2 separate regions of the Homo sapiens genome follow, and region 1 is linked to region 2. The links come from fine-mapping of genetic effects on gene expression. Tissue or cell type: monocytes after Pam3CSK4. Region 2 holds a variant in brackets; the other region holds the start of a gene. All regions are shown on one strand. Distances are between the middles of the regions. Region 1 holds the start of TTLL10 (tubulin tyrosine ligase like 10). Region 2 overlaps CFAP74 (cilia and flagella associated protein 74).

The links. PIP is the estimated chance that this variant, and not a neighbour inherited with it, causes the effect.
Region 1: it holds the start of TTLL10, and the variant in region 2 is the best candidate, but not a certain one, in a credible set for the expression of TTLL10 in monocytes after Pam3CSK4 (Quach 2016, PIP 0.89).

The regions. Positions count from the first base shown.
Region 1 is chr1:1,171,173-1,176,539 of GRCh38, reverse strand. TTLL10 (tubulin tyrosine ligase like 10) reads right to left here and starts at 2,660. Exons shown (of 16, transcript NM_001130045.2): 1 at 2,614-2,660; 2 at 2,219-2,255; 3 at 2,051-2,116. It overlaps TTLL10-AS1 (TTLL10 antisense RNA 1), which reads left to right. Exons shown (of 2, transcript NR_173246.1): 2 at 144-3,484. RefSeq lists enhancers at 425-943, 5,167-5,367 and a silencer at 2,421-2,510.
Region 2 is chr1:1,989,521-1,994,887 of GRCh38, reverse strand. It overlaps CFAP74 (cilia and flagella associated protein 74), which reads left to right. Exons shown (of 39, transcript NM_001304360.2): 2 at 3,913-3,998. The coding sequence starts at 3,932. Among named protein-coding and RNA genes, the nearest start is that of CFAP74, 12 kb to the left of the region's middle. RefSeq lists an enhancer at 5,333-5,367. The variant T/C (reference allele first, on the strand shown) is at 3,082.

The sequences.
Region 1 (5,367 bases), 820 kb after region 2:
GTGGGAAAAGGTGTGGAGGTGGGAAAAGGTGAGGAGACATCCGTCCCTCCGGGAAGCCTGGAAGACTCTCACAGGAGTGAGCTGTCAGGGAAAAGATGCAGCAGCTGTGAGCTTGCAGCTGACCTGATGACTGTGTGCCCCAGCCTCTCCAGCTGTACAGCGTCAGCCTCTCTCCAGCTGCACAGCGTCAGCCTCTCTCCACCTGCACAGTGTCAGCCTCTCTCCACCTGCACAGCGGCTGGGAGCAGCAGCCTCTCCACCTGCACAGCGTCAGCCTCTCTCCACCTGCACAGCGTCAGCCTCTCTCCACCTGCACAGCGGCTGGGAGCAGCAGCCTCTCCACCGGCACAGCGGCAGCCTCTCTCCACCTGCACAGCGTCAGCCTCTCTCCACCTGCACAGCGTCAGCCTCTCTCCACCTGCACAGCGGCTGGGAGCAGCAGTCTCTCCACCTGCACAGCGGCAGCCTCTCTCCACCTGCACAGCGTCAGCCTCTCCACCTGCACAGCGTCAGCCTCTCTCCACCTGCACAGTGGCTGGGAGCAGCAGCCTCTCCACCTGCACAGCGTCAGCCTCTTTCCACCTGCACAGCGTCAGCCTCTCTCCACCTGCACAGCGGCTGGGAGCAGCAGCCTCTCCACCGGCACAGCGGCAGCCTCTCTCCACCTGCACGGCAGCAGCCTCTCCACCGGCACAGCGGCAGCCTCTCTCCACCTGCACGGTGGCAGCCTCTCTCCACCTGCACAGCGGCTGGGAGCAGCAGCCTCTCCACCTGCACAACAGCAGCCTCTCTCCACCTGCACAGCAGCTGGGAGCAGCAGCCTCGCAGGGTTGCTGCAAAGATGGAGTTTCCACATGTAATGTCAGGACAGCACCCGCCACACACTGCGCAGTCTGCAGGGCTGTGGTGATGGTGACTGTGGGGGTGACGGGAGGCAGAGAGCTCAGGGACAGCTCAGGATAGGCGGGAACACAAGCACATGTGAAAAGCAAGGCGATCGCCAACTCTGAGGAAAACAAATGGGCACCACCCGGGGAGGCCGGGCAGCTCTGCCCCAAACATCATTCGTGCCGGGATGATATGGACAGGGCAGCGTGTGGAAGACAAGCCCCTTTCACCGTCCACGGGGAATTTCTGCACTGGAAGCTCCAGAAGCAGCAGCATCAGGTGCTTTTTGGAAACAGGCAGTTAGAAAGCGGAAGCACAGCACCCACCCCCCCACCCAGGAAACTGCCTCCGTCTCTTCTGCTGCAGAAGAAGCAGCAGCTGGAAGAGGCAGCCAGGTGCTGATTTCATCGTAAGCCTGAGGCCTCCTTTGGGCTTTTCTAACTTTATGTCCTTATGATGTTCACAAATAACTAAATAAGTTGTGAGCTGTTATTTCTTGTCATTGAAATTAAAGGTGTTTTTTTTTTTAATTTTTTTAGACGAAGTCTCACTCTGTCGCCCAGGCTGGAGTGCAATGGCGCAATCGCGGCTCACTGTAACCTCCGCCTCCCAGGTTCAAACAATTCTCCCGCCTCAGCCTCCTGAGTAGCTGGGATTACAGGCGCCTGCTGCCATGCCCGGCTAATTTTTGTATTTTTAGTAGAGACAGGGTTTCTCCATGTTGACCAGGCTGGTCTCAAACTCCTGACCTCGTGATCCGCCCACCTCGGCCTCCCAAAGTGCTGGGATTACAGGCGTGAGCCACCGCCCCGGACTGAAATCAAAGGTTTCTTAAGCAGCTGCCCGCTGTGTGTGTGGTGAACCCGGGGCCTGAATGCAGGTGGGACGCAGCCTCCCAAGCGCCGGGAGCCGCTGGCTCCTCACGCCTGTCGATCTAGCAAATGTGCTTTGGAGTCTCTGACGGACGCGATTCTGAATCCAGAAGGAAAGCGTCTCACTCCGAGATGCTGACTGACGTGTCCTTTATAGCGGTGGGACTTGGGAAGCCGGTGACGCCCGGTGTGGAGGACGGTTGTGACGCCCCTCGGTGGGGACACGGTGTAAAGGCGGCGTGGAAACTTGGTGCACGACCTTACAATAAATTGTAAAATAAGCGTTTTACCTGGTGAGATGAAAAGACCGGCAGGAGACGGCACCCCGGTAGGATGAACAGAAGAGACTTTTAAACCTGAAGAAATCATCCAAAAAGCGACCACATGTTAGTGTCCTGCTGCGAGTTCTCCCCCCAGAATCCAAGCTTGGCCACGTGGGGCCCTAGGAAGGTACTGACATTGTTCGAAGAGCTGGTGCCTCCCGGCCGGAGGCCGCTGTCAAAGGACGCACGACCTGTGGGCTCAAGCAGCCGTCCGTCCAGGACTTGCTCTGCGGAGGCAGACCTGGTCCCAGGCCACGGAGCTCGTCCCAGGGCTGCCCAGCCCTCCCACCCCACCGGGTACACACACCGTTCCCCGGCCTGGCCTGGACCCGAGCCTCTCGCACGGTGGCGCTGGGGTCCGGGACCCGCAGAGCAGGCTCAGCCTGGCCCCACCCTACCCGATCCCTGTCCAGTCCCCTCCCCAGCCTCCTCCTCTCCTGAGCAGCCTCCCGAGGGGACCCGCAGGCAGGGCGTAGGAGGGCGGGGCCGAGCCCACTGGACCCCAGCTGGTGGCCGCCGGCGCTTCTTACCTGCCCAGCCCACAAGGTCCTGGGAGCCTGGGCCAGGAAACAACAGTGGTGACCTGGCAACCGTCTCCTGGCAACCCCCACCCAGCCGGAACCCAGAGGTGAGCTTGGGTTTTCGGAGGATGGGGAGGGGCTGCTGAGTGGCGGGGCCAGCCCGGGAAGCCGGGCTGAGGGCTGAGGCTGGAGAAGGGCACAGCTTCATGGGCACAGCTGCCTCCCAGTCACTGCTGGGACTGCCTGAGCCTGAGCCCCAGTTGCTGCCCCTCCGCCCGGCCCTCCCAGGATGGTCCCTGAGCCGTCTCTCAGGCCCCACCCATGCTCAGCACCCCAGGACCTGGCCCGGGCCAGGCTCTGCGTGCACCCTGGTGATGTTGGCTGGATACACGGCTGCCGATCCCTGAGCATTCTCTGTGCTTCACGTGGTCGGGTCCCTGTTCTCACTCCACAGCGGACGAGGTGCCACTGTGCCCCCCTCTGCAAACAGGAACCGGGGGCTCCACAAAGTGAGTGCCCCCCAGAGGGGGACTCACATCTATCGGTCCAAACTGCACCTTTCTGTAAGCCCCTCGCTGTGTCACAGACCTCGGCCAAAGTGAAGCATTCCGCAGGGGTTTGGGCCGTGAGGAACAGCCTGCCCGACACCTGACTTGAACACTCTGCGGGGAAAAACACCGAGGAACATCACGATTACCTTCTGCGGGAACAAGGGCCAAACAAACGGCCTCATCCTGAAGCCGTGTGGCCCGGGCCGCTCCCACCCATACCTATAGGCACCCCAGCCCGTAGGCGGCAGTGGGCTCTGGCATCCAGCTGGTCCCCCACCTCTGCAGGTGTTTGCAATGTACCCGTGTTGATGTAAGGCTGCCCTTTCTCCATCTCTGTGTGTCTTTGTTTAACCCTCACATTCTCTCTTTTTTTTTTTTCAAAATACGGAGTCTCACTCTTTTGCCCAGGCTGGAGTGCAATGGTACGGTCTCGGCTCACTGCAACCTCCGCCTCCCAGGATCAAGCAATTCTCCTGCCTCAGCCTCCCGAGTAGCTGGGATTACAGGTGCCCACCACAGTGCCCAGCTAATTTTTGTATTTTTAATATTAATTTTATTTTTTATTTTTATTTTGTTTTATATTTTATATATTTATTATTTTATATATTATTTTCTATATTATTATAATTATTTTATTATTAATTTATTATTAATTTTAGAGGGTTTCATCATGTTGGCCAGGCTGCTCTTGAACTCCTGACCTCAGGTGATCCGCCCGCCTCGGCCTCCCAAAGTGCTGGGATTACAGGCGTGAGTCACTGCGCCTGGCCTGCCCTCGCCTTCTCTTTAAAACACCTAATGATACGAGGTCTGGGAGTCCTGGGCTCCTGGCATGACCCATGGCACGGTCTGATCCCCTCTGCCTCAAACTCTGAGCCTCCAGCCACGTGTCCCCTACCCATCCGTGTCCTTCAGAGCTTTGCGTGGGTCACGAGGGCCTCTGTGCTTAGGGTCCCCTTGCAGGGGGCTGGTGGTGCCCCCAAAAGACAACCACATCATAGCCCTGAAACCTCGAATGTGACCTTATTTAGAAGAAGGGGCTTTGCAGGTGGGGTTACGTCAGGATCTCTAGTGACATCACCCAGGGCAGGCCCTGAATCAATGGCCTCTGCCCCCCTGAGAGGGAGGTGGAGAGAGGAGACGCAGACGTGGGGGAGACGCCGTGGGACTGGGGGGCAGAGATGGGTGACACGGCCACAGCCACTGATGCCTGAGCTGGCAGGGGCTGGGGAGGCAGACAGGGTCCTCTCCTGGAGCCCCCAGAGGGGTGCAGCCCTGCCTGCCCTGTGGCTTTGGAGTTCTGGCCTCCAGATGCGGGCGTAAGCGTCTGTTGTTGTGCCTGCCTGTGTGGTTTTTCAGCAGCCGGGAGGAGAAGCCACCCTTTCGAGAGTGTGGTGCCCGCTCCGGAGCCGCCTCCCCGACCCACGCCGGGGCGGCAGCCTGGGGGTTCCCCGCTCTGTGTCCCTGGGGCCTGAGCTGTGGGGGAAGAAGGGGCCCCGGCTGTCCCTGGGGAGTCCCTGGAAGGAAGAGAGAGCTCTCGGAAGCGGGGCGGTGGGGGGCGTCTCCCACCGTCCTCCTGGTTCTGTCCAGCTGGGAACAGTGTCCTCGTCCCCTCCCCGCACTCCCACCTTGCGCCTGGTGCTCAAGCTTTGAGATGGTCCCGCTGGACCCTGGTGCGGAGCAGACCCAGGAGGCCCCTCTGCCCTCTGGGAGCCTCAGGTCAGGTGGCAGGTGGGGCTGGGGCAGGTCCTGGGCTGAGTGGCTGGGCCTTCGGGGAGCAGGGCCCACTTGGTGGGGGTGACGGGTGGGGGGTTCCTTCGGTGGCTGCTGTGGCTCTCCAGGCTGGGAGCAGCAGATCCGGGTTCGGAAGCTCTGACTCTGGGAAGGGGCCTACGTGTGTCCCCTCCTCCCTGAGGCTGAGGCAGGTGGCCTGACAGGAGCTGATGGGGATGGGAAGGACTCGCCCAGCTCCTCTCCAGAACTGGCCCTTCCGGGAACAGAGCAAGGCAGGGTCCTTGCCCCTGGGCTGGGAGGGAGAGCCCCGTGTTCATCTTTGTGGCGCACCGGCCTTTGGAGGATGTGATCTGGACACACACCTCGGAGGACGGGTTTCCTTGTGTGGGGGGAGAGGGGGTGCAGCGGGCAGGTCCCCCAACCCCTGCAGCCTCCCCTCCCTGGGGCCCCACACAGGCCTGAGGACTCCCCACCGCCC
Region 2 (5,367 bases):
CCCAATGACCCTTGCCCTGGTAGATTCATGTACTGAAAACAATAAATCTACCCCCTGTTGTTAGTGAGGACTCAGGAGAGATCAGAGGTGGCTGCCTGTTGGAAGTGCCGTCTTTAACCGGATGCTCAGTGTATATGGTTTAGTGTGATCATCTTCAGAGGAACTGTGTGTGTGCAATGACACCTTTTAGAAGACTGACATCCACGGGGTGTCCAGCAAAATGACGTCGCGGAGGCCGCATGGAATTCACAAGCACAGAGCTGAATAGGTTTGGCCATTTTCTAAATAGTTTCTGAAAATCCTGCCATTCAAAGACTAGCAGCTTAATCAGTTCTTTCAAGTGGAAAAAATATTGTTGGAATTTTACAAGATGCCTTAAAATTCTGCCTCCCAGGACTTTAAAATGCAATTGTTTCTTTGTAAGTTTAAAAAATTACTGGCATTGATACATTAATAATTTATCCAAGAAACATTGCTAGGCACTGAAAATATTTTTAGTGAATTATTCTGAAGCGATTGCTAAGTTAAGCAATGAAACACAGTCCTCTACAATTTTACAGTTTTAGCATCTCATACATAATGTCAACATTTATGTACATTTCACCCGGAATTACTCATTATTTCAATGCAAAATGGTAGTGCTAATTCCCAATGTTAAATGTCTGTCTCTATACTAGGTACATTGACTTAAAGCTTTTTTTTTTTTTTTTTTTAACCCTTTTAGAGTCAGGGTCTTGCTCTGTCACCCAGGCTGGCCTGCAGTGGCACAATCACAGCTCACGGCAGCCTCGACCTCCTGGGCTCAAGTGATCCTCCCACCGCAGCCTCCTGAATAGGTGGGACTACAGGTGCCCACCACCACGCCTGGCTACATTTTTTTATTTTTATTTTATTTTTATTTTTTTTGAGACGGAGTCTTGCTCTGTCGCCCAGGCTGGAGTGCAGTGGTGTGATCTCGGCTCACTGCAAGCTCCGCCTCCCGGGTTCACGCCATTCTCCTGCCTCAGCCTCCCGAGTAGCTGGGACTATAGGCGCCCGCCACCACGCCCGGCTAATTTTTTGTATTTTTAGTAGAGGTGGGGTTTCATTGTGTTAGCCAGGATGGTCTCGATCTCCTGACCTCGTGATCCACCTGCCTCGGCCTCCCAAAGTGCTGGGATTGCAGGCGTGAGCCACTGTGCCCTGCTGATTTATAAGCATTTGACATCAGCTGTTTTGTATATTAATCATGGTACAAGCACAATGTGATTAATAGGCGTTAAAACCAATCACATATTTAAGGTCTAATAGAAAACAGCCACCGGCCGGGCACGGTGGCTCACGCCTCTAGTTCTAACACTTGGGAAGGCCAAGGCAGGTGGATCACTTGATCCCAAAAGTTTGAGACCAGCCTGGGCAACATGGCAAAACCCTGTCTCTACAGAAAATACAAAAATCAGTTGGGTGTGGTGGTGCGTGCCTGTAGTCCCAGCTCCTTTGGGAGGCTGAAGCAGGAGGATCAATTGAGCCCAGGAGTTGGAGGCTGCAGTGAGCTGTGATCGCACCACTGCACTCCAGCCTGGGTGACAGAGTCAAACCCTGTCTCAAAAAAATAAAAGAAAGTTAGCCATTAAATTTAATTCTCACCAGAAAAAAATAAGTAAAGAGTTTGTGATTTTAACATTGTTTCTTTTTTTTTTTTTTTTTTTTGAGACAGTCTTCCCCTGTCGCCCAGGCTAGAATGCAGTGGCGTGATCTCGGCTCACTGCAACCTCCGCCTCCTGGGCTCAAGCAATTCTCGGGCCTCAGCCTCCCAAGTAGCTGGGACTACAGGTGCCTGCCACCATACCTGGCTAGTTTTTGTATTTTTAGTAGAGATGGGGTTTCACCATGCTGGCCAGGCTGGTCTCAAATTCCTGACCTCAAGTGATCTGCCCACCTTGGCCTCCCAAAGTGCTGGGATTATAAGCGCGAGCCACTGTGCCCGGCCTGTTTCTTAAGTGAAATTATTTAGTTCCAACATCTGGACACAGAAGATTCGGTACCAAGAGTTCCACACGAGCAAGCTCCTAACATTCCCAAAATGATAAGCAAAGTGTAATGATAATTTTGAAATTATTTAAGAATTGTTTTTGGGCCAGGCGTGGTGGCTCACGCCTGTAATCCCAGCACTTTGGGAGGCCGAGACAGGTGGGTCACGAGGTCAGGAGATCGAGACCATCCTGGCTAACACAGTGAAACCCCATCTCTAATAAAAATACAAAAAAATTAGCTGGGCGTAGTGGTGGGCGCCTGTAGTCCCAGCTACTCGGGAGGCTGAGACAGGAGAGGGGCGTGAACCCAGGAGGCAGAGCTTGCAGTGAGCCAAGATCCCGCCACTGCACTCCAGCCTGGGAGACTGAGCGAGACTTCATCTCCAAAAAAAAAAAAATTGTTTTTGGTGCCAGATGTAGTGGCTCAAGCTTGTAATCCCAGCACTTTGGGAGGTTGAGGTGGGTGAATCCTGGCTGAGACCAGGAGTTCAAGACTAGCCTGGGCAACAAAGAGAGACCCACCATCTCAACCAATAATTTGAAAATTACCTGGGCATGGCGGCATGTGCGTGTAGTCTTAGCACTTGTGAAGCTGAGGCGGGAAGATTGCTTGAGCCCAGAAGTTTGAGGCTGTAGTAAACTGTGATTGTGTCACTGCACTCCAGCCTGGGCAACAGAGTGAGACCCTGTCACAAAAGAAAACAGAAATTGCCCAACAGTGTTCCAGAGTATCCCTTTACACTCCCACCAGCAACGCGTGACGATGCCAGCCCTTCCATAGCCTTGCCAGTGCTCACTGTTGGCAGCGTTTTGATCTCAGGCATTTTTTTTTTTTTGAGACGGAGTCTCGCTCTGTCACCCAGGCTGGAGTGCAGTGGCGCGATCTCGGCTCACTGCAAGCTCCGCCTCCTGGGTTCACACCATTCTCCTGCCTCAGCCTCCCGAGTAGCTGGGACCGCAGGCGCCTGCCACCATGCCCGGCTAATTTTTTCTGTTTTTTAGTAGAGATGGGGTTTCACTGTGCTAGCCAGGATAGTCTCGATCTCCTGACCTCGTGATCCGCCCACCT[T/C]GGCCTCCCAAAGTGCTGGGATTACAGGTGTGAGCCACCACGCCCAGCCAATCTCAGGCATTCTACTCAGTATATAATAGTATCTCATTATGGCTTGATTCATATTTCCTTAAAGATACTGATGTTACACAGTTTCACATGCATATTGGCCATTTGTATATCTCTTTTCTTATGGAATTCCAAATCTTTTGACATTTTTTTCTTGAGATGGAGTCTCGCTCTTGTCCCCAGGCTGGAGTGCAGTGGCACTATCTCGGCTCACTGCAACCTCTGCCTCCCGGGTTCAAGCAATTCTCCTGCCTCAGCCTCCTGAGTAGCTGGGATTATAGGCATGCGCCACCACACCCAGCTAATGTTGTATTTCATTATTTTAATTTGGTATTTGCTGGTGGGAGTGTAAAGTGATACTCGAGGATACTGTTGGGCAGTTTCTTTTTTCTTTTGTGACAGGGTCTCACTCTGTTGCCCAGGCTGGAGTGCAGTGGTGCCATCACAGCTCACTGTAGCCTCACCACGTTGGCCAGGCTGGTCTGGAACTCCTGACCTCAGGTGATCCACCTGCCTCGGCCTCCCAAAGTGCTGGGATTACAGGCATGAGCCACCGCGCCCGGCCTCTTTGACCTTTTAAACTGGAGTTTGGACTTCATGTGGTTGATAGGAGCTCTTCATGTGTTCCAGATGTAAGACTTGTGTCAGATATGTGTGTGCTGCAAATATTTTTTCCTAATCTGTCGTTTGTTTTCTTAATGCCTTCTTTAAGAGAAATGGTTAATTCACCGTCTTTTAAATCTATGATTTTATTGATCTATATTTTGCGATCATCTTTTGCAGCTAATTTCTATCTCCCAGCATGGAGGATGACGGCAGCCTGCTCCCTGAGGACGAGCTTTTGGCCGATGCCCTTCTTTTGGAAGATGGTAATAAAGCTTCTTTCACAGTAACGGAAGTTTCAGCAAAAAGACAAACAAATGACATGCTTCATAGTAGCCCTTTAATTCCCTTTATTTCTGGGAGAGGGTATCTTTTACACTCATATTTTTCTCTCAAAGAGGGAGCTTATATTATTGTCTTTATTTGAAAGAAAGATAAATTGTGGCTGAGATGTTGAAGGCGGCAGACCATAGTTTTCTAGTTTCCAACATCAGTATTGAGAAATCTGATGCCATTTTTATCCCAATCCTTTGAATGTGACCTATTTTTGTTTTCTTTTCCTGGAAGCTGTTTTTAAAAAATCTCTGATGATCTGAAATGTTACTGAGACGTGCCTTGATTTGGTTCTAGTTCTGGGCACAGGCAGGCCATCGCAATCTGGGAACGCATTTCCTTCCCACCCCCACCCCACTCCCCACCCCGTTTTGGGTTCTGTTGTGTGCTGAGTCAGCTCCTGGCGCTGTGTGGCCTTCTCCCCCCTGCCCCCCGCCACTGTCTCCCTCTCCCGCCCCCCTTGTGACTGTGGCTTTCTGCCTTTTCCATCATTTTTACTGAGATTTAATGAAGGGAAGAAAAACTGTGTTCCCTTTGCCGTGTTTTGCCGGAAGTCCGCTGTAATCTTCTGAGATAGTGACCTTCAGCCTCTTTTGTCTGAGAACCCCTTTACATTCTTAAAAATTATTGAAGACACAGAGAACATTTGTTTATGTTGCCTGTATCTTTCCATACTTACTGTATCAAAAATTAAAGCTGGAAACATTTTAATACGTAGCCACTTAAAATAGCAATAACGAACCTATTGGCAGTAACGTTAAGAGTTGGGTTTAATGGAAGACAGCTGGAGTCTTAGAGCTGTCTGTTGTGACGTCACCTGTCATGCAGCCTCTGGAAAACGCCACTGTCCTCTCATGGGAAGAGAGTGAGGAGACAAATGGCGTGCGAGTGTGATCATGAAGACAGTTTTCACCTCACAGGCCCTGAAGGACACTAAGGGACCCTCAGGGTTCCTCGGATTTTGCTTTGAGAACCATCAAGTTAGACTTGTCAAGATTTATCCTAACACTGGCCGGGTGTGGTACCACCAAGTTAGTGCGTGTCAAGATTTATCCTAACACGGGCCGGGTGTGGTGGCCCACGCCTGTCATCCCAGCACTTGGGGAGGCCGAGACGGGTGGCTCACTTGAGGTCAGGAGTCCAAGACCAGCCTGGTCATCATAGGGAAACCCTCTCTCTACTAAAAATATAAAAATTAGCTGGGCATGGTAGGACACATCTGTAGCCTCAGCTACTCGGGAGGCTGAGGTGGGAGGATCCCTTGAACCTGGGAGGCGAAGGTGGCAGAGAGCCAAGATCACG